Homo sapiens: one gene and its partners. The protein of the gene in region 2 purifies or fractionates together with the protein of the main gene of each other region. This does not show direct contact. Each region holds a gene or a part of one and is shown on either strand. Other genes may lie near its edges. The genes, in order: LRPAP1, CABCOCO1, TOMM34, CYRIB, SFXN1 and SLX9.

Region 1 (5,408 bases), on a different chromosome or scaffold from region 2:
ACCTGCATTAGGAAAGAAACAAACGTACCATTGAGGTTGCGTATGAGTCTCGCTTCCTTCTCCCCATCTTCGTCCAAGCCGTCAAGCTTTAGTTTCTTCCAGGCGAGTTCGTCCCTCTCCTGTATCTTCAGATCAGCGTGGAGCTCGGCCAGCCTCACGGGAGGAAGATGCAGCTGCGAACGAAGGGGAGGAGCCTGTGAGCCACGAGCAGGACGGACCAGGACACAGCGAGAAACTGACCTCGGAGGAGGCTGGCCACCGGGAGGTTCTGGGAGACCAGGAAGAGGTGGAGTCAGGGTCACTGTCAGCAGGATTCAAACCCCACAGGTTTAGACAAGAACTCAACATGGACACCAGTCTCTAGGCCTGTCTGTATACACGATCCGGAAACCCCAAGTCCATCGGGGGCTCCCCACCAGCAGCGGCTGCTCATTCCTGTCCGGCTGTAACAGGACACCCCACCCTAGCACCTGAGGACAGTCATCGGGCACTCGGATAAACAGAGCAGGAAGAAGATACCCACTGCATTACCATTGCAGATACATATTGCAAGGACACAGACACCTAGAAGTTCTTTTTTAAAAAAAATCACTGTAATCTCAGATCTGCCCCATCTTCATTTCCCAAAGACCCTCAGTCACCACCTCTCAAGTGTACCATGATCCGAACTGTCTTGCTGAGACGGTTCTTACACAGCCCCAGATCCTTCTGGAGCAGGAATCTGTCACCCTCTCACTTACCTGCTGGCGTAGACCACACAGGCAGCGCCCCGGAACGAGCTGCCGCACTGGGGCTGAGGAACTTCCCCGCCCCACCCTCATCCCTCTCCGCAGGGCAGGCCACGCTTCATTCATCCCACCCCTGCCCTCCCAGCTCTGGGACCCTGGGTGAGAGAAGGAAGCAAGTGAGGTGACCGCTGGGCACACTGCTTTTTGGTTGCAAAGACAGGATTTAGGCCAAGAGTGTCCCCACGTCAGAAAGACTGGGCCAGAATGCCAGGCGGCCGAGGCAAGCAGCAGAATGAAACCCACCGGCCAGCTCTCATCAACTCTGGCCTCGGGGCTGGCCCGGCCGCTAAGAGGCGTGCGCTGGGGCAGGCTAGCCCTTCAGGGAAGCGAAGGCTCTTCCGTGCAGAGCAGAGTGGCCCAGCTGTGTGAACCAGAACGTGTCATGAGGTGGGACCAGGGTTCACGGAGACAGGGTGCTGTCCCTGGCTAACTGGGGAGGCTGCACCGCATGCCTGTAGTGACGCCAGCGCATTAAAGCCTCTGTGGAGTCCTGCAGCAAAGGAAGTGCTCGGCACTGTGCAGTGCAGATCCCCAAATCTCTCGGCTCTCAGGAGGGTCCCCTTCCCTGAGCACCTGCATTCTCACATTCCCCCGGGGCTGGTCCTCATGAGCTGCCCGTGGCTCTAGGAGGGAACCCCAGCTCCTGCCTCTGAGCTCCAGGTGCCCATCACCTAACGCCTGTCTCTGATCATGTGTGTTTAAATATGGAGTCTGTTTTCCCTTAGACGTTTGAAATATTAATCTTTTATCTATATTTCATTAGCTATTTTCTAACATAAATACAACACAAGCTAGTATCCAAAGTATGTGTGTTATATTTCAATAAAGTTTACGTAAAACAGTGAACATCCCCACGAAGCGTCAAGAGCCGGCTGCCTTCCCAGTGTCCCGCAGCCCGCGCCGCCTTGTGGCCCACACTGCCTTGCAGCCCGAGACCTCAGGAGGCCCAGCCCTCAGGTCCGCGCCGCGCAGGGGCACACGTTTCTTTCAAGACTCGCACGAAGCCAATTCTGTGTGTTTGGCACACCCCACACTCCGGAACCTCCTCGCCTCACTCTGCCTGTATCTAGACTGAGCCCATCCTGCTCCCTGCAGCTCAGTCTGTGTTGGGCCTGGGAGGAAGGAGACCCCTGACCACAGGCCCTGTCTCCAGCTGGGTGCTGGGGCTGTCAGCTCCGCCCTCTCTTCTCTCAGAAGCCCAGCCTGACTCTGTGGCTGCCCTAGCCACACAGGCCCCACCCTCCAGGAGTTTAAAATTTAGTTAGGGATGAATTCAGATTACTGAGCCAAGATCCCCAATGGTAAAAAGATAGCAAACGGTAGGCACAAAATGAATGGCAGGGCCTAGGGCAGAGGAAAGCTTCTAATTCTCTAGAAGGTTCTCTAACCCTTAGTGGGTGGTCCCAGGACAGTCTTTTGTCTGGGCCCTCCTGGTAGATGCTCTGCGCCCCCATCTCTGCAGGGGCTGCTTTCCAGGATTGTCCCAACCTGAAAACCCTTTCCCTGGCAGCCTTCGACACACCCCTACCTGTGTGCCTCTTCCCCAGCCAGCCCCATCCACCCAGCCAGCCCCATCCACCCAGCCCCTTCTCCCCAGAGCTCCACCCCGTGCCCCTCTGTGCCCTGGACACTTGCCTGCGGCGTCCACTGGAAGGCCCTAGGAGACCTGAGGTCTGATCTGAGCATTCCCAGCAGGAGGACCCAGGACAATGAGGCACCTGAGTGACGCTGAACTCTCAGGAGGGGCAGTCGGTGCCTCAGGAGGAGGGGGAGCCCACACCTGCCTATCTTGTTTGTGACCCAAACTCCTGGAGGAACAGGTCTGCTTCCATCTCTACTTCCCCGTGGCTGCTGCTACCCTGTAGGCGCCTTACTTACCGTGCTGCACTGCCCGGGAGGGTCTGAGATGCGAGGCCCACAGTGATGGTCTGAGCCAGAAGCAGCACCCTGGGGCAGGCAATTCAGGCCCATGCTCTCAAGTGTGTGCTGGCCTTGAGGGGCCCCGGGTCTGCCCTCTTTGGCTGCAGGGGAGAGGATGCAGGTGTCCCATGACTGCCCATGGGCTGCCTGCTGGAAAGCGGAGCTGAAGACCCAGGGCTGCTGAAGTCCTGGGCCCATCCTGGCAGGCTCACAGCCAGGCACCAACCCCTGTAACTTGCAGTCCTCACTGGCTTCCTGTCTGCCTCCCTAGGGTGCTGGGAGAATCAAGGGCAGGTGCTCTGTGGGCTGTAAAATCTGCAACCCACAGGGGAAAGTCATTTTCTCCCTCTGATTCCCCAACTCTCAGGCAACAGGGGGTCTAAATTTCACACCGCATGTCTCACAAAAGCCAGCTCCCTTTCCCCTGATGTGTGGCTGCCAGTGCTCAGCGCAGAAGGGGCCAGCCTGGCAGCACCACCACAAAAAGCAGCCCCAGCTCTGTGCAGAGGAAGACCAGCAGGTCACGTGCAGACCCCAGACCCCACGTCTGGATTCTTTCACCTCTCTCAAGTTAAATGTTAACGCATCAAGTTAGAAGTACCCTGTGGAAACCAACTGCAGAAAAGAACCTGTCAAACATGAAGCAGCGAGGCAAATCATCAACAACCAGGGTATACATGCAGGCAAGAAAGCCGGCTCAGCTGATCAAACGACGCCGGTCCTGTGTCCCCAGACACAAGCAGAGCCGACCGTGTCCTCCTGACCAGACCCAAGGGCCCAGCACTGCTTGGGACCTCAGCAGTGGCCCTTCCCCACACAGCACCACCCGCGTGCCAGCAGAGCTTTCTGGAACTTTCCAATAACCTGCTGCTGCTTCTCAACGCCCCAGGAAACCCAGGCCAGGGTCCACAGCTACACCACTGGTGTCAACCTGCACACACCGCACAGTTCAGGCTGGGCAGGTTCCAATGCCACCAGGACCGCCAATGGACCACCTCTTCAGAGGGCATGTGCCATCCTCCCAGCGCTCACCTGAGTGCCCGCGCCAGACTGCAAGGCACCCACCATGAGGAGCAGGCTGTGGCGGTGACCAAGGCTTCCTGGCACGCTGTACCTGTCTCACCACGGCAGGTGGCATGCACTGTCCCAGCCCAGCCACTGTGCCCCAGCTCCTTCCACCTGAGCTCCGTGGACAAGGGCACAGCCGTACCCGCCTTGAGCTGCTGTGAGGTCATGCATTGGCCTGGCGAGTCCTAGGTGCCCATGGAGGCCACTGGCTGGCCCATCCTCAGAGGCCCTTCTCAAGCCAGGGGGGACGCTTGAGAGCTGGGGTGGGGCTCTGAGGGCTCCTCTCTGCAGACCTCAGTTTCCACTCGTCAGACCTCTGAGAACAAGATGCTTCACACACTCTCATTGCAGTCACCATTCACGTCAGAACTAAGGACTGTCTGCGTGCGGTGCCTCCTGGGACTACACCTGTAATCCCAACACTTTAGGAGGCAGAGGCGGGAGGATCACTTGAGCCCAGGAGTTCGAGACCAGCCTGGCCAACATGGTGAAACCCCGTCTCTACTAAAAATATAAAAATTAGCCAGGCATGGTGGTGCATGCCTGTAATCCCAGCTACTCAGGAGGCTGAGGCACGAGAATCGCTTGAACCTGGGAGGCGGAGGTTGCAGTGAGCCGAGATCACGCCACTGCACCCCAGCCTCGGCGACAGAGTGAGACTCTGTCTCAAAAAAAACAAAAAAACAAAAAACCAAAAAAACTAAGGACCTATGGCCAAGGACTCCGAGCTCATGGCACCGTGCAGCCCAGGCCAAGAGGTACACGAGTGTGTCCCTGAGCGCCGCAGCTGGACCATGCAGACCCTGGAGCTTACTCCTCAGCATCAACACAACACACAGAGCTCTGAAGAGGCAGAGTCCTCAGAAGTCGTCTGTGAGCACAAGGGCTCTGCATGGCCTCTGACCTCCAAAGCTCCAGGGACAGCCTCTGCTCAGGAGTCTTGCAACACAGTGGAGCCCGCCTGTGAAAGAGGAACTGGGAGAGTCACAGAAAGTCAAGATTCAAGTTGCTGGAGAGGATGAAGCAGCACCCCCCTGGCCGGGTCTCGCCTGATGAAAGCGGGTCTCAGCATCTTCTTGGCGGCAACCTCAACGCAGGTCTCACAGCCCAAGCCCATCAAAGGCAAAGGTTTCCTGAAACGCTCCCTTCACCCTATGCCTACTGACACACTACGCAATCCTATATGCCAGGATGTGGCTTTACATGCAGAAAACAGGGACACGATGTTTTCATGAAGCAAACCAAAGAAAGGACAAGACCGTCCTGGCTGCTGAGCGCAGGTCGCAGGAGGCTGAGAGCAGTGGCTGCAGAGCCGGGCAGGAAGTGCTTCTCTGAAAAAGCAGCCCTCACCTCAATTATCTTCCAGGGGGCGATCCAAGACCCCGTCTCCGTCTGATACCTACCTAGAGCGGCGAGTCAGGTGGGGTAAGAAGCCGACTGGAGTGACTATTTGCACGAACAATTCTCTCCCCCTACGTTTGAACTGACTGTGGCTCCTCCTGCCTCCTGACCACCCTGGGCCCTGGCACGCTCGGCAGAAAGAGCCACAGCACAAAGACCACCCGGGATGCACTACCGCCACTGAGAACCTCAAAAAGACCCGGACGGGTCTGACGCCTGCACACTTGGCTC
Region 2 (5,246 bases):
GCAGCCATCAACGTTTTCATTCAGGAAGGACAGCTCAGAGAAGAAACACATCTCCAGACCTTTTAGTTGTGGAACTACAGGAACAATAAACATTGTTTTACCTCAAGGGGTACTCTTACTTTGCTGATCAGTGTAGTTAGAAAATTACCAAATGCTGTCAGATCTGCCTGTGCCCCCAGTGAATATAGTTTGGGCAGTTTCTTTGAACTGATGGAGAAAGTAGGGTTAAAGCTGATATCCAATCAAGTGTCACCCAGATCCAAGTACTGTATAGCCTGGAAAATTTTTGAAGAAACTGCTACCTCCTAGCAATGCTCTCCATTCCAGTAAACTCTGAAGTATAAGAACTTTGGAAAAGAGTTCGGTAGTAATTAATTAATTTGTCCAACTGGGGACAATCAGCTGGCAAATTGATATTTTTCTTTTGAAATTATATTTTAATAAAGGTATTTAAAGACTTGAGATTTTTAAAAATCATTCCACTTCAATATAATGGCTAATTCTGGGAACTCTATGAGTTTGATTTGTATTTAAGATTTTTACAATCTATATATAGGTTGGTCTTTAATAACCATTTATACATTGCTTCTTTTTATATAGGTCATGTATTCTCCTGGGAGAGTAACAAGATTAGAAATAACAAATACAGTACAGAATAAATTAAAGTGCTTCAAACTGCATTATATAATTTCAGAAAATTGGTTTCACACTGAAACGTTTAAATAAGAAAACCAAATGATTTCAGTAAAAAAAAAAAAAACCTCATATATGCATTTGAATTGCTATTGTTTAACAAATTTTATCCTCAATAGTGTGGTACTGGTATGTTTTCACAGTGTTCCAGTAACGTGGCAGTCCGTTTGGGTCAAAATGGATGAAGTTATTATCATCTTTCTTTATTTCTGGTTATTTAAAAAGTTGACTTCATTCTCCTTGAAGATGAATAGGATTTATTAGTCAAAACGTCAAAGGACTATCATAAAAGTAATTGTATTTTTATATATAATTTTTCAAACTCTTGTATACAAAATGTTCTCATTACACTTGGTGCAATAAATTCAGAGGCTGTTATGGGATGGGAGATAGCAAAATTGGGACCAATACTTTTCTAATTACTTAGGAAAATAAAAAGTGGGGCTTGGTTTTCCTTTCACAACTAAGTGATGGAGACACGACGCTCCAGAGAGTCTGTTATTCTGGCTGGTTTTGTTTGTTTCTGTGAAGTTTAGCATCACTCTCCTTGTACCAAGTCCTTAGGCCTTTTTCAATTTTTCTATTCGTGCATTAAAGGCCTCTTCCTGTATTTGCAGTTTTTCGTTTATCTCGGTCTGTGAAGACAATCATAAAAAACGTGGTTATGATGGAGCTATCTTTTGCTGCACATTGTCTTTGTGGTTTTGACATACTATAGTGCCTAAAGACAGATATTATCCCTCACACACCTTCCTGTTTTGCAGACATAGCTGTGTTTCAGCCTGTAGTGATGTGATAACACTTTATCATATTTCTCTGCACATTTCCAATGTATAGCATGTCTGCTATGAACAGGAAGTGGTATTTGGACAGCCATTTTTCACAAAGCCTTGTGTTGGAAGATAGGATAATTTATCTGTATTTTCAGACAGACTTTACCAATAAGCACTGAATCAGAATAACTGCTTTGGGCTCAGTTATTGCAGTGCTGTGGGTCCCTCCACCATCTGCAATGGATGTCTGTGTCTCCCGTGTAATACATTCTAAATGAGATCCCAGGAAGCTTCTGTTGTGAAATAACAACACAAATAACCTTACAATTAGAACAACTCCCATAATTAAGAGTATTCATCATACATTAGAACTCTTGGAATGATGCCACTTTCTGATATATTTTTGGTAAAAAAAGTAAGCAATTGCTCTCAGGTTTTGTGATTGCCGAGGTGGTGATAGCATTTTGCCTCTGGCAGCGATCTTCTGTGGACTCACATTGCTACCTGCACAATTCCATAAATACGTTCACATTAACTGAACATTAGTAGCCCTGGAAATGTCTTCCCTTTTTCACAAGGGATAATAAAATTACATACAGAAAAAGCAGTGGTGGTTGACGTGGCAAAATTGATGTTTTTGTTGTTGTTTAGGTGATTTTTAAAATGTCTACCGCTGTATAAGGAGTAGCTTATACACATATGTGTTAATAAATTCAAAGTTTGGATTTCTAATAGCTATAACATTATTTGAGGGCTTCAGGGTAACTGTACTTTGCAAACCTTTTATTATTTTAATTTAGATAGAAGACATTTAAAAAAATCAAATACTGTTTTAAGCCCAGATATAATTTTTCATATTTATTTACAAGAGTGTAACTATAACAGATAGTTGTGACATGTCCATGCTGCCTTATCTGATGAGATTTGATTTCACCTCACAGTAAGATTTGATATTTCTGGAAAGATCGTATGTGTGCCAACAATTCTGGGTTCAGAACTCACATAAGTATCAGTCTTTTCTGGTTCAAGCTTTAGTAAACCTTGGGATCAAGCTCCGGCCTCTGGTTTCTTATCTTTTCCTTTCTTGGTGGTTGGGTGGAGGAGGCAAGGAGGGATGGAGCGGTCCTCCAGGTCACAGAGGAACTCTTCCTTTAGGATGCACTGACTCTAAAGAAATCATCATCTATGCATGATTTTAGGTAGGGTCGAAAGAAGCACTGATCTTGGACTGGGAAGATCTAGGTACTAGTTCAGCTACGTCACCTTAGGTAAGTCATTTCACCACCTGGATTTTAGCTCTTACCTTAAAAATTAAGTAGGGGAATAGGATTATGTTAATATCAAACTTTAGTTTTTGAATTCATAATTCCAACTTCCAATTTTGTGATATACTTCACCAATGTTATCTTTCATTGTTATGATGTCATGAAATACTTAAAAATCTGTTACTCCTGCCTTATTAAAATAAATTTATGGGATACAACATATTGGACCACATAGGGATTAAAATGGTTTGAAATAATTTTACCACAATTTCAAAGGATTGGGAAGAATTGCGCCACTCAAACAATCGATTCTTCCCACTTTCAATTAATGTCCCTCTATGCCCACCAGTAATCTCATTTCTTTTCAGCTAAGGATTGATGTGCTTATCATCTACCAGTTTCTGTTTCACTACCACATAGGGATTTTACATTCACTTGGAGGCCTTTCTGGTATTTTACCGAGACAGAATTTATCAAAACAAGTGTAGGCCTTGGGAAAAGGTTCATGAAGGGGCAGCTAAGAGAGTGGCATACTGACAGAGGTGAGTAATGTCTCAGATCTCCAGACCTTAGGCTTAGTACTTTAGTTCAGTCACAACCAGCAGAGTTTGGATCTAAAGGCTCCACGTCTAGTCAATAACAGGCTGTCATTAGCCGTGTTTCCTTGTCATTCTTCAGAACTTTGCTGAACAGACAAGCAATCCTGCAAATACTATGGTTGGGTCTGGTTCTTTTTTTTTTTTTTAAGGAAAAAAAATATGTTCAGTAGTCTCTCATTGACCACTTCTTTGAGATGATTTCATGCTCAGCTTTTCTAACCTGGAAAATTCAAGTTGACCTAAAAACATCTAGGGTCCCAAGATGGCAAACTTCCCTCAAAGTTTTTATATTATATTACCCTATTGCTTCCACAGGGCCAACAGCCAACATGTAATGTAAGAATTTAGTGTTAGCATTCATATTTCTCTGAAATGTAATTCTTTAAATATATTTAAGTTTGCTCCCTTGGGTATAATTTTTATTACACAACTCAGGGCCAAAATAATTTCATTTTGAATGTATCTTTAAAATTAAAATACCTAAACTATACAGGCTTAAAATGTTTGCTCTATTCAGTATAATTTTAATTAACATCTCAGGGCCAAGATAACTTCATTCTTAATAAATCTCTAAAACCATAAAGTGAGTCAATGGGAAAATAAGTGAATTAACATAAAAAACTTATGGATTCATACTACATTTTCAGAAATTTCTGTATTAGAGAAGGTAAAATATGCCTGAAACCACATAGAAAAGGAATTTTGAAAACAACTGTACTTAAAACATGAATTATTTACTGCCTTTTTTTTGCAAAAATTGTAATAACAGTATGACTTTTAAACAAAGTAGGAGAAAAAAATCTGTGAGAAAATTTAAAACATCTTACGAGTAGTGATTCATTAAATATTCCTACAGCAGGTCGGTGTGTTCAAATAGCATATATACACTGACCACTGACACATAGCTACCTTTGAAAAGGGATATGGCAGTTCTTAGAGCCAGGAACACTGGAAGGCAGGTTTTAGAAGTGGAAAATAACCTACACATCTAAAATAGGAGGAGGAATTTAGGTAAGCAGAGAGTAATTACCCAACTTGGAATTTGACCAAGACACAAGGGTAAACGTGGAAAAAGTGCCACACCACGGGAGTATTAAAATCCAGAGTAGTCTGGTTGTGATATTAGAAGTTATGTGGTTTTTGTGGATAACGCTGGAATTAGAACTAGAACCCAGGTCACAGCTCCCATTCAGGGTCTTTTATCAGTTGTCAACCCTGGGAACTCTGGACAAATAACTTAAGTCTTTCTGTGTCCCATTTTTCAATTTATCAGGGGAAGTGCCTGCCTAACTCACATGGAGTTTACTAGGATTACTGATAGAAAATACATAAAGGGGTTTGCCATCTTGAGCCATTGTATAAATCCACATCATCATGCTATTTCATTGAAAAATTGGCAGTAATTTGGCCCAGGCTGATGTCTACAAATCCACTTACTATGGAAATGATTGTGGCACCTAGCGGTTCTGCATCCCTGTCCTCTGGTCCACATCCTCTCCATGCCTAATTACATTTAGGTGAGCAAGCTATTGAACTTCCAGGATGGCTTCAGGCCAATGGGAAGATAACATACAGACACATAGCTATCATATAGAATAGGGGTATAAATGCTGCAGACTGTAATATTTAAAATAATTTCAATGAATAGTTAAAACATACTGTTCACTGCATGGAACACAGCTTTGGTAAAGACGTTTTCAATTTTTTGGGCCTGCAAACAATTCAGTTACTGTCTGGTAGTTCCTCGGCAATAATTTCAGAGCTGTAGGATTGCAAAGGAGCCCAGAGCCATGATTATACATAAACTATATTTAGATGAAATGTTATCAGATCTAAAAAGGAGATATGTTCTGAACTCAGCTTAATTCAACTGCTCTCTGCCCTTCTACACAATAACCAGTTATTACATTCATGGA
Region 3 (6,038 bases), on a different chromosome or scaffold from region 2:
TTCTTCTTCTGGGTCTGAAGAACCTGCCCAGATAGAGTGGGGAAGATGATCAGTTTGGAAAATGGGTGCCTCAGGGCATTAGGATACATTTCAAACTCAGAGCTCTTTGGGCCTTGTGTTAAGGCAGTAGAGATAACTATAACCTGTTCAGGCTTGTTGGTCTGCTGGGCTGGCGTGTTTGTCATTCTTATGTGACAGAAGGACACTGCGCTTTTTGCCATTCAAAGGGAACCAAGTATTTCCTCATTCACTCATTCCAGCACTGAACTTGATAACAGACAAAAGATAAACAAGAAATAGCTAGCTTCTGCCTCAAAGAAATCCATGCTGTAACTACTTGGGTTTGGGTGGATAAATGGATGGATAGGTGTGTATTTTATTACAAAAAGCATTTAAATCCAAGAAAGAAAGAAAAAAAAAAAAAGAAAAGAAAGGGAGGGAGGGAGGGAACAAGATGATAAACGTATGATAAATGGATTGACCAAAAGTTGTAGGGGCACAAAACACCCATGAAAGACATGAGACTAGTTTTACCTGGTCAAGCCAGGGAGGACTTTGTCAGGGAAATGATAATTGAGCTGGGTGTGATGGGAGTACAGAGAACTTAATCAGGAAAAAGTCTTAAGCTACCCCATGGGGAGAATTATTAGACATTCTTCTAAGGCAGTCCTTACCCTCAGGAATCGCAGAGGCTCAAGTCCTTCACTGTGGCCACCATGATCTTTATTTACGTATTTTTTTTTGAGACAGAGTCCTGCTCTGTTGCCCAGCCTGGAGTGCAGTGGAGCGATCTCCGCTCACTGCAACTCCACCTCCTGGGTTCAAGCAATTCTCCTGCCTCAGCCTCAGCCTCCTGAGTAGCTGGGATTACAGGCACTCGCCACCACGCCTGGTAGAGACAGGGTTTCACTATGTTGGCCAAGCTGGTCTTGAACTCCTGACCTCAGGCAATCCGCCTGCCTCGGCCTCCCAAAGTACTGGGATTACAGACGTGAGCCACCGTGCCCAACCAACAATGATCTTTATTTTTAAAGATAATTTTCAACCACTTCATACCCACTAGTGTCGGCCATTATTTTAAAAAGAATTGAAAACAGGGTCTCTTTTTGAAAATTTTGAAACATACAGAAGACCATTATCTCAGAATCCACCACTAGATTTAGCACGTTATATTAGTTCCCAACTTTTTTAATTTTTAGAGACAGCGTCTCCCTCTGTTGCCCAGGCTGAAGTGTAGTAGCACAATCATAGCTCACTGCAGCCTCAAACTCTTGGGCTCAAGTGATCTTCCCAGCTCAGCCTACCAAGCAGATAGGACTACAGGTGTGTACCCCCAAGCCCAGTTAATTTTTAAAGTTTTTGTAGAGACAGAGTCCCACTGTGTTGCCCAGGTTGGTCTTGAATGCCTAGCCTCAAGTGATCCTCCCGCTTTGGCCTCCCAAAGTGTTGGGATTATAGGCATGAGCTATGGCACCCAACCCTTAAAAATTTTTTTGATAAGCTAAAACTCCAGCCATCCCCATCCTTATCCCTGTGCTCCCTCCCCAGACTCACAGAGGCCAGTACAATCCTGAAGTTGGTATGTAACATTTTCAAGCATGTTCTACATTTACATATATATGTATATATGTATATGTATATATGTATACATGTACATGTATATATATGTATATGTATATATATGTGTGTGTGTGTGTGTGTGTTAACAGGAAAGATACCATTTTATGTCTATTAAAGCATTTCCTAAGAGGCATCATATTGCCTATCCTTCTGCAACTTACTTTTTTCACTCAGTATCCTGTTGCCATGTTGATATTTGATATCTTTCATTCAATACCAACAATAACAAGCGTTTTCCCCTCTTGTTTTGCCAGGCCCAGAGACGGAAAGTACAAAGACTAGTAAAATACATCCTTGCCCTTAAGGAGCTAAGTACCCAAAACCTGTAATCCATCTTGAGTCACCAGAGTACGGTTGCTCAGAAACAGCAGTGGTGCGGTGGAAAGGGCATCAACCCTGCGATCCGGACAAGTCACTCCATCCCTCTGATCATGCGTGCCCACCTACCACATGAGGATATCACTTCATAGACTTGCTGGAAGGGTTCATTGTGTTAGCCTGTTCCCTGAGCTCTCTTCGTGATCAAGAAGACTGATCAGATAAATCAAGAGACTTGCCCAAAATTACCTAGGAAATCTGTAGCAGCAGCAGAACCAAACTCCGGTCCTTGCTAAATCTAGATACCAGGCTAGCTTTTCTATGGACCCAGAATTAACCCATACAAATGTACAAGCTTTTCCAGACCAGCTGGGGTGAGATGAATGAAAATGGCAGCAACATCAATACCTCAGCTTCTTCAGCAACTTCATCAAGTAAGGCTGCCATGAGGAAGTGGGCCTAAAGGAGAGTTTTCTAGAACAAAGAAGGGGGCAAAGGAGTGGCTTGAAACTGCAAAAAGTGCAGACAAAAAAAAAAAAAAAAAGAATGAAATCTGGAGAGGATGTGAGGAGAGGTCTAGCAAAATGATTAAAAATTTGGACTTAGCATCAAAGTCAAACAGATCCATATTCAAATCGTGGCTCTTCCATGTCTTCACTATGTAACCCCGAGGGAGCCAATTTAACTCTCTTGGACTCCTCCTTTCTAAGCATTTTATCCACAGGGCCATAATAAAGATCAAAGGAGATCGTGTCTAAAATGTCTAGCACATGGTAAATCACTCAAGAGATGCTAGCCAAGAAAAGGAAAAAAAGGAAGGCGGCAAAGGGAAATAGGTACTGAACGGTGACTCACAGAAACCAGGATCCAAGGCTCCTTTCAAAAGTCAAGGCTTTAACCAATGAGGGTTTCTGATTAAGTCACCCTGGAGAAGGGGCTTTGGGCAAAGGTCTGCGGTATGCTGACGAAAGCTGGACGCTGGGAGAACTGGTAAGAATATGCTATTCTTCTGTTTCAAACTCTCCAGTAGCTTCCCATCCAGCAGCTTTCATGCCAAGCTTCCAGTTTGGCATGAAATCCGAACTCCTTAGCAGAGTTTACAACACCTCCACAATAAATAAGGGTCTGCCTTCCTAACTGACCTCATGTCTTCCTATTCCCTGCCCTGGCTCACTATGCTTTGACCCCTGAAACACACCATGTTTATATCGTCTTGGAGGGGGGGCCTTTCTCATTGCAGTTCACTTCAGGACCGAAAACCTTGTGCGCTTGGCTTCTCATCATTTAGACATCACCTCAAATATCACTTCTTTACAGATGTTGCCCTTGATCTCCCACTCCAGTCAACTCTATCACATCACCCTATTTGTCTTCTTCCTAACCCTGATTATCCCACAGGTCTCGTTTACTTACTGACTCGCTTAAGACTCACGTCCTCCCCACCGCCCCCACAAGAATGCGCTGTCCTTGAGAGAAGGGACTTTTTGTGTCTTGTTACACAGGCGGTATATAACAGCTACTCAACAAATACTAACTGAAAAATGAATTGCTGCGGGGGAGGAGGGTTTAGCTTTCTTCTCAGGGCTCAGAACGAGGCCTAAATAACTTAGGATGGGGGCCAACAGGGCAGTTAACAAGCAGGTGGAAAGAAAGGGCCGAGGAAGTTTCTGGTAGGATGCCGGAGTCGGAAGGGGCTGGAAGGGTGGGAGGGCCGGGCAGGACTGCTGGCCGCCGCGCGAGGCCCGGGCGGTGGTTGCGGGAGTTGGAGGAGCAGGCCCGGAGGTGAGATGGGGGCCGGGGTCGTACCTTGCGCCTGCAGCACCCGCAGCGCGCGGCCGTAGAGCGCGGAGGCCTCGGCGTACTGGCCGTTGCGGAAACTCTCATTGCCGGCGGCGCGGAGCTCCTCCACAGAGTCTGGGAATTTGGGGGCCATCCCGTGGCCAGGCCGGCGAGTTGGGAGCTCCTTCCTTCCTCCCCCGTGTGGTGCGGCACACCTTCCGGGCGCAAGCGCCGGCGGCGAATATCTCCGCCCAACAGCGAACCCGCGGCGAGGGGGCGGGGCCTGCGAGACCTGGAGGCCCGGAGCGTCCCGCCCTCTGCGCGTGCTCGGTTTGGAACTTAGGCTCCCTTGCACGCGGGGCGGCAGCATGCTCTGGGCTCCCTGAGTTGCTAGAACGCCGTGGATGACGCAGGGAAGGAGGCTGGCCCCGCTATCAGGGAGATTATGTCCTAGTGGGGTCCCCACAGGCAATTAACTGATAAGCAAACGAAGACTCTCATTTCATGTGATTAGTGCTGTAAGGAAAACAAAACAGGATAATGCAATGGAAAGTGACCACGTGTGGGCTATTTTAAATAAGGGGATGAAGGAAGGCCTTTCTCAGGGGGTAATAGTTGAGCTGAGACCAGACAAGATTTAGGGAATGCTGTTCCAGCCAGAGGGATGGTAAGTGCAAAGGTTCCAAGGCTAGAAAGTACCTGGTACCTAGTGCTCTATAGATATTTATTTAATAAATTAATGCACAGGTGGATTGATGGTGTCAAAGTCAACATATAGAGATGAATCTCTAAAGTTTAAATATTTTATTTGGCAATCAAGAATTGCAATTCAGGGCTTACACACAGACCAGGTTGTCTTTGGTATGTCAGAAGAACAAAGAGAAGGTTTGGAGATTTTTATAAAACAGAAATGTTACATATTGCTCTTCAAGGAAGTTTACAGGCACTAGTAAAGTGGGGGTTTATCAGCTTCTTGGGGAGCTGGCAAGCTTTGATTGGTAAGTGATAGTGGTGGATAAAACTCAGAATTGTAGCAGGCTGTTTCAGTAGCTATTAGATAAAACTGGTTTTAGGTTACAGCAGGCAGTTTTAGCAGCCAGGCTTGCAAAAAATTACTTTTTTGGAGCAATGTTATATGCCCTGAGTATTTGTTCCCCTGGCTTTTCAATTCTGTCTTAGTTGGATATGACAAGAATGACCCAATTCGTATGATCAGCTTTCAGAATGGATGAAGATCTTTCACAGAGTGTGACTTCAATTTATCTCCAGCCTCATCTGACGACTCTATGTCCCACGCATTGCTATCTACACACACTAAATTCTTGCTTCCTAGCCTTTGCTTGTTATCTCCTTCTCCTGGATTTTTTTTTCTAAATACTTTTTCTCCTGCCTAATCCTGAATTAACTTATAACATTCCATTCAAACATCATCTTCTCTGAAAGCCTTTCCTGCTTCCAGCCCCCTCCCCACCCCCCACTATGCTCCCTTTGCTCCCTATTGGTCTCTAGCTTTATCCCTAACTTTGCATTAGTCACCCTTTGATTGCCAGTTTGTAGTTTTCCTTAAACACTGCGAGGTCTTTAATGGCAGGAAGTGGGTCCTTTTTATCTTTGTTTATCCAAGACCCTAATAGGGTCTGGCATCCAATAAAAGTCATTGATTGATAAAGATCTAGTCTCTACCTTCAGGAATTCAGTTATAATGATCTGCATACACTTAACTCCACCAGACTATAAGCTTTCTGAGGGCTGGATGGCTGTTCCATCTGAAATGCTTCCCCTTGCCCTCTGCCCCGACCAAGGATGAACACTGACTGTGGTGGGAAAACCAGATGAGGCCCATGCTGCTGGCTGGCTACTCAGTGACTTCCATCTTTGCTTCCAGGAGCCTGAATTTTGCCTGAGACTCTCCCAGCCTGGGGAAGTGAATCAGGATTGCTCTAAGCCAATTAGAAAAATGTCATTTTCTCTTGCCAGTGATTCATCAAGGGATGCACATGTGATGCTGATCTGGGCAATGAGATAAAAGGGAGTCTGAGGCTGGTCGCAGTGGCTCACATCTGTAGTCCTAGCACTTTGGGAGGCCGAGGCGGGTGGATCACAAGGCAGGAAATCGAGACCATCCTGGCTAACACAGTGAAACCCCATCTCTACTAATAATACAAAAAATTAGCTGGGGTGGTGGCACGCACCTGTAGTCCCAGCTACTCAGGAGGCTGAGGCAGGAGAATAGCTTGAACCCGGGAGGTGGAGGTTGCAGTGAGCTGAGATTGCACTGCTGCACTCCAGCCTGGGCGACAGAGCAACACTCCGTCTCAAAA
Region 4 (5,408 bases), on a different chromosome or scaffold from region 2:
CGAGACCAGCCTGACCAACATGCAGAAACCCCATCTCTACTAAAAATACAAAATTAGCCGGGCGTGGTGGCACATGCCTGTAACCCCAGCTACTAGGGAGGCTGAGGCAGGAGAATCGCTTGAACCCGGGAGGCGGAGTTTGTGGTGAGCTGAGATCACGCCATTGCACTCCAGCCTGGGCAACAAGAGTGAAACTCTGTCTCAAAAAAAAAAGAAAGGAATTTAGGATGACATAAGTTGTAAGTTTTTGCCTGCACTGGTACTGTTAATTGAGAAAGCAAAAACTAAAGAAAGGGCAGGGTTAGAAAACGCAACCCAGAGTTTGGTTTGGCCATGCCATCAGCTATCACTGAGGTTTCCACCATCCCTCCAGAGAAACTGCAAATACGTGGACAGGTGTGCACATGTGGGCCTCAGAAAAAAGTCAGGACTCAACACATACATCTGGGAGTCTGTTGGTTTCAAGATGGTATTTAATGTCTTGGGCTTGCTGACATCACGTCTGCCAACAGGGGCATAAATAACAACACAGAGTACCTGCCTAGGCAATGCTTACCTCTGATACAAATTTTGTTGTGGCATCACTCAAGGTTTTCAGCATTGGAGTTGCCTCAGCATAAAACAAAGACATTCGATTTGCCAATTCATTATTTACTTCATTTTCTCCTTCTGCCTGTGGGGAAGGTAAAAGCACTGGATGTTAGTTCACAAATTATTACATATAATAACAATTATACAAGGACCCAGGCAGGGTGCCTGCCTCAATTACATTTTAGACTCTCATGTATCGATAATACTCAAATATTCTTTTTAAAAAAAAGTTATTTTTTTTAAAAAAAGATTAACCTCTTCAAAAATATTTTAAATGATATTAAAGAATTTAAATAAAACCTTGATGAACTGTCTACTACATACAAGAGATTCTAAATGTTATGGAGGACAGAAAAATGATTATAAAATTGTACCGTCCTCCATTATGAACAATAAGTATCCATACAACATCCATGGTAAGATTCTAACAGGTGATAACACAAAAAGGGAGTCAGAGAACATTAAGTTGGAACAGAAGAAACTAAGGAGAAGAGTTATCCTTTTGCAGGTCATATTGGGCAGGTAAACAAGGTATTCCAATCTGGCAGGGGAAAGAGTATGTTTTCAAATGACTCCCTAAAGAGTAATTCAGCATATTCAGTGTAATAAGGGGCTGCAACCAACGAAAGATACAGGTTGGGGTCAGACTGTATAGTGCCATAAATGCTAGCTTAAGTTCATATTTTTCTTCCATGTGGAATGGGGAGCCATTCAGTGTGTTAGATGAAAGGAATGACAACTAAGTCAGTTTCCTAAAGAAAATTAACTGATAATCGTGGGCAGATTGTACCAAAATGGAAAAAGACTTGTAGGTCCGAAAATGAGTTATGCTGTGCAGAGTGACTGCCAGAAAGAGTGGGAATTAGGCTCTCTGTTGGAACAGTGGGAGGAGGAGATGGAAAGGGGGATGGAGAAGACATTTCAGAGATATTTCACTTGAAAAAAATTGGATTTTACCTGTAATTATTGAGGGTAAAAGGGAGAACCAAGATGACTAATGTCTTTAGCCTTAAGTGATGGCAAGGATGGGTATAGTATAGGATTGGCTGCTTTGCTTTTTGCTTTTATCTTATTTTACATGGTAGGTATGAAAAAGACAGATGTTAAGGTCAGTCTCACACGAGGAACTGGTCTATGCAAAAATCAAATTGATGCAAATTACAGATGTTTCATAAAGAGGAATCTTTTCCTCCAACTCAGTGCCTTAGTGCAAGTGCTTCCTAAAATATTTTTTCAAGGAAAAAGAAAATGAATGATAGTCTTTGATATATATATTTTAAATATCTTATGCCACTTATTACTCCTTACATAGTTACAGTATTTCTCTATTAAACTATCTATTTGAAACAAGGGTTGATCTTTGAAATTTTTCAGACCAATTATAAGGTTCTCAGAAACACAGAGAACAAGTTAATATTTTCTTCCGCTCTAGTTTTACTTATGGTATTTAGTTCCTTGGAGGTAGAAAAGAGTAATAAACAGCTTAAGAGGAGGATGGTAAGAAGTTAAGAGACCTAAAGAAGCCAGAAGAAATGCTATACTAGCCAAGGAGCAGGCACAAAGCCATTTTCTCAAACAGCTATATCAGGCACAGATGTGTTAACAGGCCATGACCTCACTATCACCTCTTGCCAGCATTAACCATTAATTTCTTGGAGGAAAACGGACTTGGGTTCAAGATTTCTCTCCAAGAAATTAACCCACGTCAATTTCTCTCCAAGACTCTTCCATTCTAAGAATATAGAGACAAAAAACTCGTAACTATGAATTCACAGAATTTCTGTACAGTTAAAATGAGAGTACATCGCGAAATTTTATAAGGATCAACGTTATACAGATAAGCAATTTTGTTGAAGTAGTTGTGGGAATTTAAGAGACTGTGAAGAAAAACAGGTAAACACCATATGGTTTGTTACAGTTTGCTTTTCCTCCTACAGCTATGGCTGCCCATAATTACTAACTTTATTACTAGCTTTAACACTATCTGAATGAACAAACAAAATAATAAAATGAACAGGCTGAGCACTAAGTTACTCTTACCATCCCCCTAATTCAAAGCATTAACTTACCGGTACATTGTTAATCCTCATACGACTCAATGTTCTTCTATAATAGCTGAAATCATTCTGTATGGCAGGATTTGTCATCTGAAGAAGACAGTTGTGGAAAAAAAATGTTATGTACTAAATGCTAATGTAAAAAAACTAAGTAAAAAATCTTTAGTTTTAATTAGTATAAAACATTCCATAATTCATAGTATCATTTTAAGAACTAGCACTGGTATAATCCAAGGTGGCTTATAACTGTATTTAGTCCTTACTGAACATATAAAACGAAAGACCACAGGCAGTATACTTTCCCTTTTCTTTTCAGTTAATTTCAGGTAATGTACTAAAAGCTTGTTTATCAAATAAACAAAAACAAAAAGGACTGTTTAGGCACTTGTTTTTAGTTATTACGATAAAAGTATGTAGGTATGGTCAACAGAGCAATCCTCAAACTAGAATTTTACATACAAATCTGACTGTGATACAACTATAAAATGCTGAAGTTTGGAATCCAGCTCTTCCATTTTCTAGACAGGGTACCAGAGGCCCTGAAAAATCAAAGGACGTGCCCAACGTCTCATGACTAGGGTTACTGTGGCAGAGTATAAACTGGAACTCAGGTCTCTTGATATGAGACCTAGTGCTTATTCCTTTACATTCATTCTTTTTAACAACAAGGTATTTATAGTTCCAAACACTATAAACAATGACAGAGGAAAAAAGAAACAGAAAGAAAGGAAGAAAGCGGGAAAGGAGGAAGGGAGAAAAAAGAAATTTTAGCAACATTTTAATATAAAAGAATGTTGAAAAACGGGGGTAGAGGGTGTGAGCAGAAAAGAAAAAGTATTAGAAAAAAAGCTCAACCTTTTGTTTCGGAGATTAATTTTTAAACAAGGTTAAATGAAGACTGCTGAGACATGTGGATCACCTGAGGTCAGGAGTTCGAGATCAGCCTGGCCAACATGGTGAAACCCCGTCTCTACTAAAAATACAAAAATTAGCCAGGCGTGGTGGCACATGCCTGTAATCCCAGCTACTTGGGAGGTTGAGGTGGGAGAATCACTTGAGCCCAGGAGGGAGAGGTTGCAGTGAGCTGAGATCACGCCACTGCACTCTACCCTGAGTGACAAAGCAAGGCTCTGCCTCAAAAAAAAAAAAAAAAGATTGAGACCGAATACTCAGTAATTTGCTCTTTGCCATGTATCAAAAGACCCGTCATTAATTTCTAAATCCAGCTTTGCATTTTTATTAAGGTCTAGCAGACATCATTTAAATACATTTTAACAATGTTTCCCGGCTCTTCCTCCTAGTACTCATTAAAAGATTCATGATTTTCGTAACAATCAGGGCCAATAGATAATTCTACCTTGAGTTCATCAAACCGGAGTGTGAAATGAAGAATTTCTGCAAACTGTTTAGCAAGAGCCTGCTCTCGCTCTAGATGCTGGGTGGGAGAATATGGGGTACTTGTTAAGGCTCCCAGAAGACCTCTTAATGCTGCTTCTAAAGAAAAAAATTGAAAAAAACATTAAGTTGTTTGTATCTGTGTGATATTTGTTTATTAAAAAGTGAACAATTCATAAATGTTAATTCCCAGAAAAGTTCTCTTTAAAAAACAGATGATCTAAACATAATAAAACTAATTAAGAAGTTTAAATGTTGCCATTGCTAATGTACTACACACATTCTGAATACTATTTAACAGAATAAAAACCTTAAACGGACTAATTCAAGGGTTTATAATTCTGTAAACCCAGATTGAAAATAGTGCAGAAGTGAATTTGAATTCAACACCAAAGGGCAAGTTTTATATTACTTTAATCACTTCACACAGTGTGGAATTTGGTTTTATGAAATGGTAACTATTATCTACAGCTGAGTAACTTTCTTCAATGGCACTGTGTCCACACTGTCTGTATATGCCTATGAATCAATTACCAATTTCTCATACTTTGAATACATCCTTTATTTATAACCACAAACTGTTTGCTTTCAGCTACTAAAGAGAACAAAATATGTGGTTCAATAAGCTTCTTGTCTTAGAACTTGACATTTCAAGACTACAATATAAATATTCTAATTCATTATGTGAGCAAAATGGTCCCTTTGAAATAAGTGCTACTTTTGGGATGCCAGGCTAATAAATACCATGTTTGATAATGGAAATACTAAATACTAATACTAATATTAAATACTAAATACTAATATTTCATTTCAATATTTCAAAAAGCCATAGAAATCAAATGAATTCAGTTACAGATCACAGAACTGGAAAATGCTGCTAGATTCTGGTCAGAGAAAATAAGAGCTTACAGAGTTAAACTATGATCTGATGTTAATAAATGTCAGATTAACAAACAAATATTAATGATAAATTTAAAACTTTATGTCAGGTCATCAGCCCGTAACTTTAAAAAAACCCCAGTTTTCCTATTTATGAAGATTTACGTATGAGTCAACATCTACTGTACACTGAATATAGTCTCCCATTTGATTTTTACCATCAACTATGACATGGTCATTCCAGATGGATCAAATGAGTTTCAAAGAACTTAGAGCCCAAAGTTATAGCTAGTAAATGCTAGGTATTTCTGACTCCAAAGCCCTATTCTTTCTACCACAATAAACTGTCTCTGAAATAAAGCAACATTGTACGTAGCCTCTGTAACTTTATAAAACATTAACCTCCTGATTACTACCAATAGTACCAATTACTTCTGTAACCCTACAAAACATTAATCTACTGATTAAAAACAATAGTAGGTACTT
Region 5 (3,342 bases), on a different chromosome or scaffold from region 2:
GACAACAGAGTTACTGTAGCAAAACAAATGCAGAAACATGGCCAAGGAAGTTAAAATGCTCAGCTCTGTATCAAGTCTTTTATTAAGGCACTCCCCAAACTTAGGTTAATTTAGACTTTCTCTGTTAGTAAATGCCAGTGCCAGGTTAGAATCAGATCAATAATATAGAAGCATGTTTCCATCACCGTCATGTGCAGAGGTGTTGGCCATCCAAGTTTCAAGCTGAAATCCATCCCCCACGCCCATCATTAATATTCCTGGAATCACATTGTCATAGGAGTTTGGGGGGTGGGTGGGTGTGCCTTTATGTATATGAGGTTCAAAAAGGTGGGAGACTGGTAGCCCAAAATAGAAATATATTTCTTGTTAAAGGCATAATACAAAAATATCTTTTCATTAGGAGTTGCTGATGGTACTGTAGATATTAACTTTGAATGAAAAGTACCATCAGTTGTAACACACAAACTGCTTTATCCTTTATGTACAAATAAAAGAGAGAATTTATTTTCATTCTGAGTTTATTTAACATTTCATCCAGTTGAACTGAAATAATACATGGCCTCCAACACTGGCAAGACGCTGTGCTAATACTGAAATAAAAGCTGCCAGTCAGTAAACACTTACAATCATCATCCTTTGTATCATGTTAATAGAAATATTAATAACTACTTAGCTTTATAAGCTTATTGCACTTCATGTGGATTTTTTTTTCTCCAGAAAAGGTATTTCTAAAAGATCGGCAAGGATTGCCAATCTTGATTTGTTCTTTCTTATAAACTGTGATCAACATACAGTTGATAGCTTTATATAAAAGCATTAAGAGTCTGAAGCATCAAAAAACAACGTTTAAAAAGATGCAGCTCCATGTTCATCATCCCTTTTATAATCTCTTTTTTTTTTTTTTGAGATGGAGTTTCGCTCTTGTTGCCCAGGCTGGAGTGCAATGGTGCGATCTTGGCTCACTGCAACCTCCAGCTCCCGGATTCAAGCGATTCTCCTACCTCAGCCTCCCGAGTAGCTGGGATTATAGGCATGTGCCTCCATGCCTGGCTAATTTTTTGTATTTTTAGTAGAGGCGGGGTTTCTCCATGTTGGCCAGGCTGGTCTCAAACTCCTGACCTCAGGTGATCCACCCGCCTCGGCCTCCCAAAGTGCTGGGATTACAGGGGTGAGCCACCGCACCCGGCCATTCCTTTTATAACCTTTCACACACATAACCGGAGTGTGTAAAATTTTGGTTAGTTTGTCAATCTTCTAACCAGTCATTAGCTCTTCACTGGAGGTTAACATTCTGAAATGGAGCTACACACTACCTGGTAGGGGGAGGACTCTGAGAGGAGCGGGACACCTGGGGCAGGCAGCAGTGCCTTAGCTTCTTATGAAAAGAGCCCTTCAGCACCTCATGGAGAGCTGCCCTGAATTTCAGGCTTTTACCACTTTATAAAGAGACGCGTCGAGGACAACAGAATCTGTCCAAGGCCAGAATGTCATGGGAAAACCGTTTTGCTTCCAATGGTTTAAGACAGAAAATCTAAATAAGAAGACTCTGGCAGCATCAAGGAAGGCTCTGAGTGGCCCAAAGCTTCAGATCTATTAATCCTTTCAGAGAAAAGAGAAACACAGACACAAGGCACGCCATTTTTTCTTTATGAGGAAATTCAGTCTGGTCACATTGTCAGAAAAAAAATCTACCAAAACTAAATAGTTTCTATATTTTTTTCATTTACAATCTCTGAATACAATGATCTACACTTCATGAAATGTCACCCCTCAGTATCCGTGGATGCTTGGTTCCAGGACCGCCCTCCGATACCAATATCTGCAGATGCTCAAGTTCCTGATATAAAATGGCACAGTATTTGCATATAACCTAGGCACATCCTCCTGTATACTTGCTAAATCATCTCTAGATTGCTTATAACACCTAATACAATGTAAGCACTATGTAAATAGTTGTTATACTGTATTGGTTTTTAAATTTGTATTATTTTTCATCGTTATGTATATTTTTTATCTTTTTAGAAAATATTTTCAGGCCGGGTGCGGTGGCTCACGCTTGTAATCCCAGCACCTTGGGAGGCCAAGGCGGGCGGATCACGAGGTCAGGAGATCGAGACCACAGTGAAACCCCGTCTCTACTAAAAATACAAAAAAATTAGCCGGGCGTGGTGGCGGGCGCCTGTAGTCCCAGCTTCTCAGAGAGGCTGAGGCAGGAGAACGGCGTGAACCCGGGAGGCGGAGCTTGCAGTGAGCCGAGACTACGCCACTGCACTCCAGCCTGGGTGACAGAGCGAGACTCCGTCTCAAAAAAAAAAAAAAAAAAAAAATTTTCCATCCAAACTTGGTTGAATTCACAGATATAGAGCTCACGGATACAGAGGGCCAACTGTCTATGACGTTAAACATCTACAGAGTTGAAACATAATCTGTCATATTAAATATATTATCTATGAAATCACTACAGATGATGTAAACAGTGGTACATGGTTTCATTATTTTCAAATGAAGTGGAATGCAACATACAATATTCAAGTAAAATTCATTGTGACTGATTCATACACACATTATCACTGTATCTTTCTGAAAGCCAAAGAGATCTATAAGGATGACAAGAAAAGACATGTAGGTAGCTGGAACTGTAGTCTCACTTCTTACCAAAAAAAAAACAATGAACTGGATTCAGCCCACTCATACAGCATTGGTATTGAATATACTTCCAAAATTTGACATTTGTACATTTCAGTTATTTCATTATTTGATGTAAATAATTGAATATAAAGTCAATAACTGCAAGGTAAGATTATCATCTTTATAAGAACAAAAAACAATAAATTAAAAGTCAACCAAGGCAATCCACTCACAATCTGAATGTATATAATGATCCAGCAGGGAAGGCATGTTGCAGTGGTCTGTGACTGACTTTTGGAAGGGGTGTGAAGGAGCTTTTACCCTCCAAATCCAAAAGCTTCATCACCTTCATTGGGCTAGCGCAATCCCCAAACTAGAAGCAAACTGCCCTTAATATTTCAGGGTAAGTTTTTATAGATTAGCCCAGAGCTTTTGTATTTTCCCAGTTCACTGCTGAGATCTCCTTGATTTGCAATGGGAGTGAGATGAAAATTCAGTATTTTAAACAGATTTCTTTTTTCACTGATTGATAATCAATAGAACATTTACTGACCATATACTGAGCACCTATTCTATGCCTACCAGTGCTTTTTTAAAACCTGGGTGAGGGCTGGTATATCGTCTTTGAAAAACAATGACTATAAAAGCTACAGGAAAGGTATTTCTATAAATCATAACATGATTCAGTGTAAGGGAGTATCAGGCACTTGGCCC
Region 6 (5,130 bases), on a different chromosome or scaffold from region 2:
AGAAAGCACCATGGACATGAAAGGGAACAGACCTCTGGCTCCAAAACACGGAGTGAACAAGGAAGGGGCCTCCTGCTCTCCTCTCAGAAGCAGCGAGAAACCAAACTCCATCTTTGATGAAACCAGGAGACCCGTTAACCTGAGCTGCTTCAAAATGCCGCGACCGCAAGGACATGGGGGCACCGAGGGGTGCGGGCGACAGACAGTCTGCAAGAGGAAAACCCGTCGCCCTGTCCAGGCAGGGAGGGGCTCCCCGGACCAGGCTGTGCACTGGGGAGAGGCGGAGAGGGAGGCCAGGCAGGACGATGGCCACACGGAGAGGGCTCTGCTGTTCGCAAACTGTCTCCAGACAAGACTGGCCTGGGAAGAACTCAGTTCATAAACAGAGAAGCAGAAACCAAAGAGGACAAACACAAAGATCTACGGGAAGACCCTGCTCCTCAGGAGGCCGAGGCAGGAGGATCGCTGCAGCCCAGGAGGCGGAGGCTGCAGTGAGCCTTGATCACACCTCTGCACTCCAGCCTGGGCCACAGAGCAAGGAACTGTCTCTAAAAAATAAAAATAAAAACTTTTTAAAAAACTAAAAAAGACAGTTTACTATACTATCTATACTTCACCTAGACCCTACAAAGTGTCTAGAGTAAAAATGGATTAGAGAACATGAGATGGAAGACAGATAGATTAGAGAGATCCAGTAAGTGCATAATTGGTGCCCCTGAAGAAGGGCCGAGACAATAAAGAAATCTTTGGAGCTACCATTCGACACCAGCTTCCCAACATAACTGTACTCACAAAACAGACAGCAGCTTCTAAGCATAATCGAACTCACAAAACAGACTTCAGACTCTCAACTGGAAAGGCACAATGGGCCTCGGTAGAACTGACACAAAACGCTCCCACTGATAAACACCTGAGTAAAGCCATTTCAAACCACAGGAAAAATCATCCCAGCAGCTAACTAAAACCATCTTACAAGGGCGTAAAATGTGGCTCTCTCAGTGGAAACTGGAGCTGAGTCTGCAAAGAGGCAAGAGAGCGTGCGTGGTCTGGAGATTTTTGTACCCAAGAGGACAACTGAGTACAAATTTCTGCAAATCAGTGTCCTAGCCCTGCTAACTGGGGGCCGCAGTGCCCAGTCACAGAACCAAACGTATCATCCAGATTTCAACCAGCCAGCGGAGGGGAGGGGCGGAGATGGGGCTGCGTCCACCCATCATTTTAGATCCATGACTCCCCTTGGAAGCCTTCCTGGGAGGCGGGACTTGACCCAGGGCCACAGGACCTGACTGCACTGAAAAGCCCCCCTGGAGCAGACAGGCAGGAGCCAGCGGAGCAGCGTGGAGGGGACTAGAGGCACGGGCGGGGCTCTCAGCCGCTGAACCCCTGGGAGGGCAGGCTGGAGGCACTCAGGACCCCTGGAGAGGGCGGGGTGGGGGCACACAGGAGCTGAACCCCTGGAGAGGGTGGGCGGGGCGAGGGCACATAGGAGCTGAACCCCTGGAGAGGGTGGGCGGGGTGAGGGCACTCAGGAGCTGAATCCCTGGAGAGGGTGGGCGGGGCGAGGGCACATAGGAGCTGAACCCCTGGAGAGGGTGGGCGGGGTGAGGGCACTCAGGAGCTGAATCCCTGGAGAGGGTGGGCGGGGTGAGGGCACTCAGGAGCTGAACCCCTGGAGAGGGTGGGCGGGGTGAGGGCACATAGGAGCTGAACCCCTGGAGAGGGTGGGCGGGGTGAGGGCACTCAGGAGCTGAACCCCTGGAGAGGGTGGGCGGGGTGAGGGCACATAGGAGCTGAACCCCTGGAGAGGGTGGGCAGGGTGAGGGCACTCAGGAGCTGAACCCCTGAGGAGGTGGGCAGGTGCACTCACAGAAGCTGCTGTCTCTGGGCTGCGCTCATCCGGCTGAGCTCTGAGGGCCGGGGCTTGTTGCTCTCCCTGCTGTGGACACAGAGAAGCCACGTGAGTCAGCATCCAGCATCCCCTAAACACCTTCCCGTGGGCAGAGGCTGGCTCCTCCCTTCTTAGAGCAGACGTCGTGGTGGCCAGAGGTGACCAAACCACTGCAGAACCACAAGTTCCAAGCTGCACTGTGGCCATGGAGGCGAGACCTGGACAAGCAGTGCAACTGCCTGACCGTCCTGTGACCGCCCCGGACAAGCAGTGCAACTGCCTGACCGTCCTGTGACCGCGGGCCCCAAGCTGCTCCGTGTGGAATCTGGTGACTCCTGCAGCTCCTCCTGGCTCCATGGGACATGGAGGGAGTGGTCAGCCAGGAACACGTCTCACGATATACAGCGTCTCCACCCCACCTGCCTGGCCAGGGCAGGCTGCGCAGACACCTCACACTTCGGGCCAAAGGACCCTGGCAGGCACAGCCAGTCCCACTCCCGCAGTACACACCACTTCCCAGGAAGGCTGAGTCACCCACCCAAGCCTACATGTCCCCAGGTCCTCTCTTTAGAAGAAGGCGCACGCTGTGCTACAGTGGGAAGCTGCACCTGCCCTCCTGATGACTGAACTTGGGGACAGGGGCGTGGACCCACCGTAGATCCTGCCCTGCCTGCACCTGCGGGGGGTGCCAACGAGCACTGCAGTCCCCCATGGACAGGTGGAGGAACTGAGGAGGTTTCCTGAGTGCTGCTGGCTATTTCCTTTAGTCCTGGGATCTCCAAACCACCAAGCTGGGCCTTGACTAAGGGCACGGGCGGGCCAGGACACTCTCATCTCTGACGTCCACCCCAGGCAGGCTCCGGCTGCCCGCGGAGCTTCTCACCCTCAGTTAACCGTGGGAATCTTCGGGAGCTCGCCTGCACTCCTTGTGGTCAGCCGGCCAAGGCAGCCGCCCACCTGGCCGAATGTTCACATGGGACAGCGACCTGGGCCTTAAAAGGAACAGAGAACCCGCAAGGCCACACCAGGCGCCTTCTCAGATCTGCCGTCCACACAGTGAGATGGGACCCAGACGACGGCGGGAAGGCAGAGACGCAGAGTCCTCAGACCAGCCCTACACTTAGCCTCGGGCCAGGAGACTTCATCTTTTATTCATGGATCTCTTAAAATATGAATGACAGACATTTTGTGTCTGCCCAAAATAGCCCTCAGCACCCGCTTTCTTTTAACCCTAGCTCTGCGCTGATCTGGGGAAGGAATCAGTCCCCATCCCTTCCTGCTCACACTGGCAGATGACAGCCCCTCGCATCTCCCGTCCCCTCTGCCCGCTCAAAGCCACAGCTCCATTCATTGCAGGGGCTCTGCCGGGGCTGACGACATCTCCCCACGGCCTCTCCTGGGCCAGCCTTGCCCCGATGCAGAAGCTCTGCCCCCCTGGCCAGCCGACCCCCTCCCTGTGTCCACCCCTGAGCAGCAGCTCCCTCACTGACTGCCCAGAGCTGTCCCCGGTCCCCATCCTTGCAGAAGCCATCAGCGTGGGGCCCCTCCTCTAGGTGCACCCTGGTGCCAGGGCTCTGGGCAGCCACGTGCTGGGTCAGGAGACCTGAGCCCGGGTCCAGGACATCCTTCCTGGTTGGGGAAACCTCGGGCCCTGGAGCTGCACCCTCACTTTAAGAGATGAACTAGCAGTGGGGGTGGGACCAATGCCTCCCAAGGTCCCAAAGCAGAGGAGCTGCACCCAGGGTGGCTGCAGTGCCCATGAGGCCAGGCGCGGCACCTCCCCTCCCCACTGCGGGGACCGTCCCCCACCCACGCGTCCCACACCCCATCCTCCCAGGCGGGACGCACAGCCTACCCAGTGGGGTTTCCGGAGTTCAGGGCCCCGGGGACAGAGTGCTGGGCGGTTACCGTCATGGGCCAAGGGCAAGCACCGGCAGGGACGCGACTCCACGAGGCCTAACAGCAGGAAGCCGAGGAGGAATTGGAGCCTAACTCCGCCCAGTGTGGACCCTCACCAGCCCCCACGGCACTCCCTCCAGGCAGGAGCAGCGGCGTCACCACCACTCCCCTCCCGACAATCACCCACAAAGCGCACACAGGAGGCGGAGGTCCACAGCATGGGGGGTCCCCTCCCGACAACTGCCCACAAAGCGCACACAGGAGGTGGAGGTCCAGAGCATGGGGGTCACCGGAGTCAAGTGTCGCTCGATGCCTGCTTCCCAGCCAGGAGTGACGTGGACCCCAAACACGGGCCCTGCCCTGGCCTCTGAGATTCCAGCTCTGCATCCTGCACCCCAGGGGCATGAGGCCCTCAGGGCAGGGCGCCAGGACAGGGGATTGAGGGAGCTGGGTTGGGAGGGGACTGAGGGGACTGAGGGTTGGGAGGGGCCGTGGGGCAAGGACCCAATGCTTGGGTTCCACAAGGACAGCTCTGCCAGCCCAAGCCATATGTTCTCCCCACTAGGTGGGAAGGGGAGAAGTGAGAGACAGAGCTCCAGGCTGGGAGGGAGAGGCTGTCCACCCTCCAGCCTCCCAGGCCACTGGTGCTCGCCTGCTGACCCCTCAAGCCCAAAGCACATCAGAGTCCAAGAGTGGTGGTCAGTGGGGCAGACCTGCCTGCCGGGACCAAGATGCAGTTCCCAGAGACACGGCCCGCCGCCCAGGCACGCCAAACCCCAGATCCTGGGACAGGCGCACCGAGCCCCAGATCTCAGGGTCTCACACCTCCTGCAATACAGGGGCCAGGGCTCCCTAGAGAAACAGCAGGACTGGCAGGAGATGTCCAAGATGCGCCTGGGTTACCTGTTGGTGCTCGGCAGTGGGAAAGAGCTAAAAATACGACCCCCACGTCAATGGGGCCAAAGGGAGCTGGGGGCAACTGCAAGAACTCCCAGCGGCCAATGCTGGAACAGTTTCGGCACCAAAATCAAGTAACGCTGTGTGTAAACTAAACATCCATCTGTCCAGACCAACACCGGCGCATGAGCGACACATACACGGGGAGAAGAGACAAAGCTCCTTTCCCAGCAGGATTCCAAACAGTCTCTGTCACTGCTGTGTCTTCCAGGAGGTAGAGCACAACCCCCACCCCGAGGCCAGGGCTGCAGAGCGACTTCCTCCCAAAGCGGACAGCATGGAGGGGGGGTCTCAACCCAGCAGGGGCCAGCTCAGCCTCACGGTGAGTCAGGTGACAGGGTGTGCCCAATACAGTGGAGTGACAGTGGCACTTCGCCTCTGGGGGC

Evidence for each region.
Region 1: the proteins of CABCOCO1 (region 2) and LRPAP1 purify together in Homo sapiens (affinity purification with mass spectrometry; one large-scale study listed by BioGRID and IntAct). This does not show direct contact.
Region 3: the proteins of CABCOCO1 (region 2) and TOMM34 purify together in Homo sapiens (affinity purification with mass spectrometry; one large-scale study listed by BioGRID and IntAct). This does not show direct contact.
Region 4: the proteins of CABCOCO1 (region 2) and CYRIB purify together in Homo sapiens (affinity purification with mass spectrometry; one large-scale study listed by BioGRID and IntAct). This does not show direct contact.
Region 5: the proteins of CABCOCO1 (region 2) and SFXN1 purify together in Homo sapiens (affinity purification with mass spectrometry; one large-scale study listed by BioGRID and IntAct). This does not show direct contact.
Region 6: the proteins of CABCOCO1 (region 2) and SLX9 purify together in Homo sapiens (affinity purification with mass spectrometry; one large-scale study listed by BioGRID and IntAct). This does not show direct contact.

What each region holds. Positions count from the first base shown.
Region 1 is NC_000004.12:3,524,879-3,530,286, forward strand, and holds part of LRPAP1 (alpha-2-macroglobulin receptor-associated protein precursor), read right to left. Parts: intron 174-5,408; coding exon 29-173; intron 1-28. UniProt on the Homo sapiens protein: Molecular chaperone for LDL receptor-related proteins that may regulate their ligand binding activity along the secretory pathway.
Region 2 is NC_000010.11:61,762,021-61,767,266, reverse strand, and holds the end of CABCOCO1 (ciliary-associated calcium-binding coiled-coil protein 1), read right to left. Parts: intron 1,329-5,246; coding exon 1,254-1,328; 3' UTR 501-1,253; downstream 1-500.
Region 3 is NC_000020.11:44,956,463-44,962,500, forward strand, and holds the start of TOMM34 (mitochondrial import receptor subunit TOM34), read right to left. Parts: upstream 3,936-6,038; 5' UTR 3,872-3,935; coding exon 3,745-3,871; intron 3,076-3,744; exon of another isoform or gene 1,875-3,075; intron 1,846-1,874; exon of another isoform or gene 1,831-1,845; coding exon of another isoform or gene 1,782-1,830; intron 24-1,781; coding exon 1-23. UniProt on the Homo sapiens protein: Plays a role in the import of cytosolically synthesized preproteins into mitochondria. Binds the mature portion of precursor proteins. Interacts with cellular components, and possesses weak ATPase activity.
Region 4 is NC_000008.11:129,851,606-129,857,013, forward strand, and holds part of CYRIB (CYFIP-related Rac1 interactor B), read right to left. Parts: intron 4,143-5,408; coding exon 4,006-4,142; intron 2,739-4,005; coding exon 2,661-2,738; intron 674-2,660; coding exon 557-673; intron 1-556. UniProt on the Homo sapiens protein: Negatively regulates RAC1 signaling and RAC1-driven cytoskeletal remodeling. Regulates chemotaxis, cell migration and epithelial polarization by controlling the polarity, plasticity, duration and extent of protrusions.
Region 5 is NC_000005.10:175,526,901-175,530,242, reverse strand, and holds the end of SFXN1 (sideroflexin-1), read right to left. Parts: 3' UTR 501-3,342; downstream 1-500. UniProt on the Homo sapiens protein: Amino acid transporter importing serine, an essential substrate of the mitochondrial branch of the one-carbon pathway, into mitochondria.
Region 6 is NC_000021.9:44,970,003-44,975,132, reverse strand, and holds part of SLX9 (ribosome biogenesis protein SLX9 homolog), read right to left. Parts: intron 1,937-5,130; coding exon 1,868-1,936; intron 1-1,867. UniProt on the Homo sapiens protein: May be involved in ribosome biogenesis.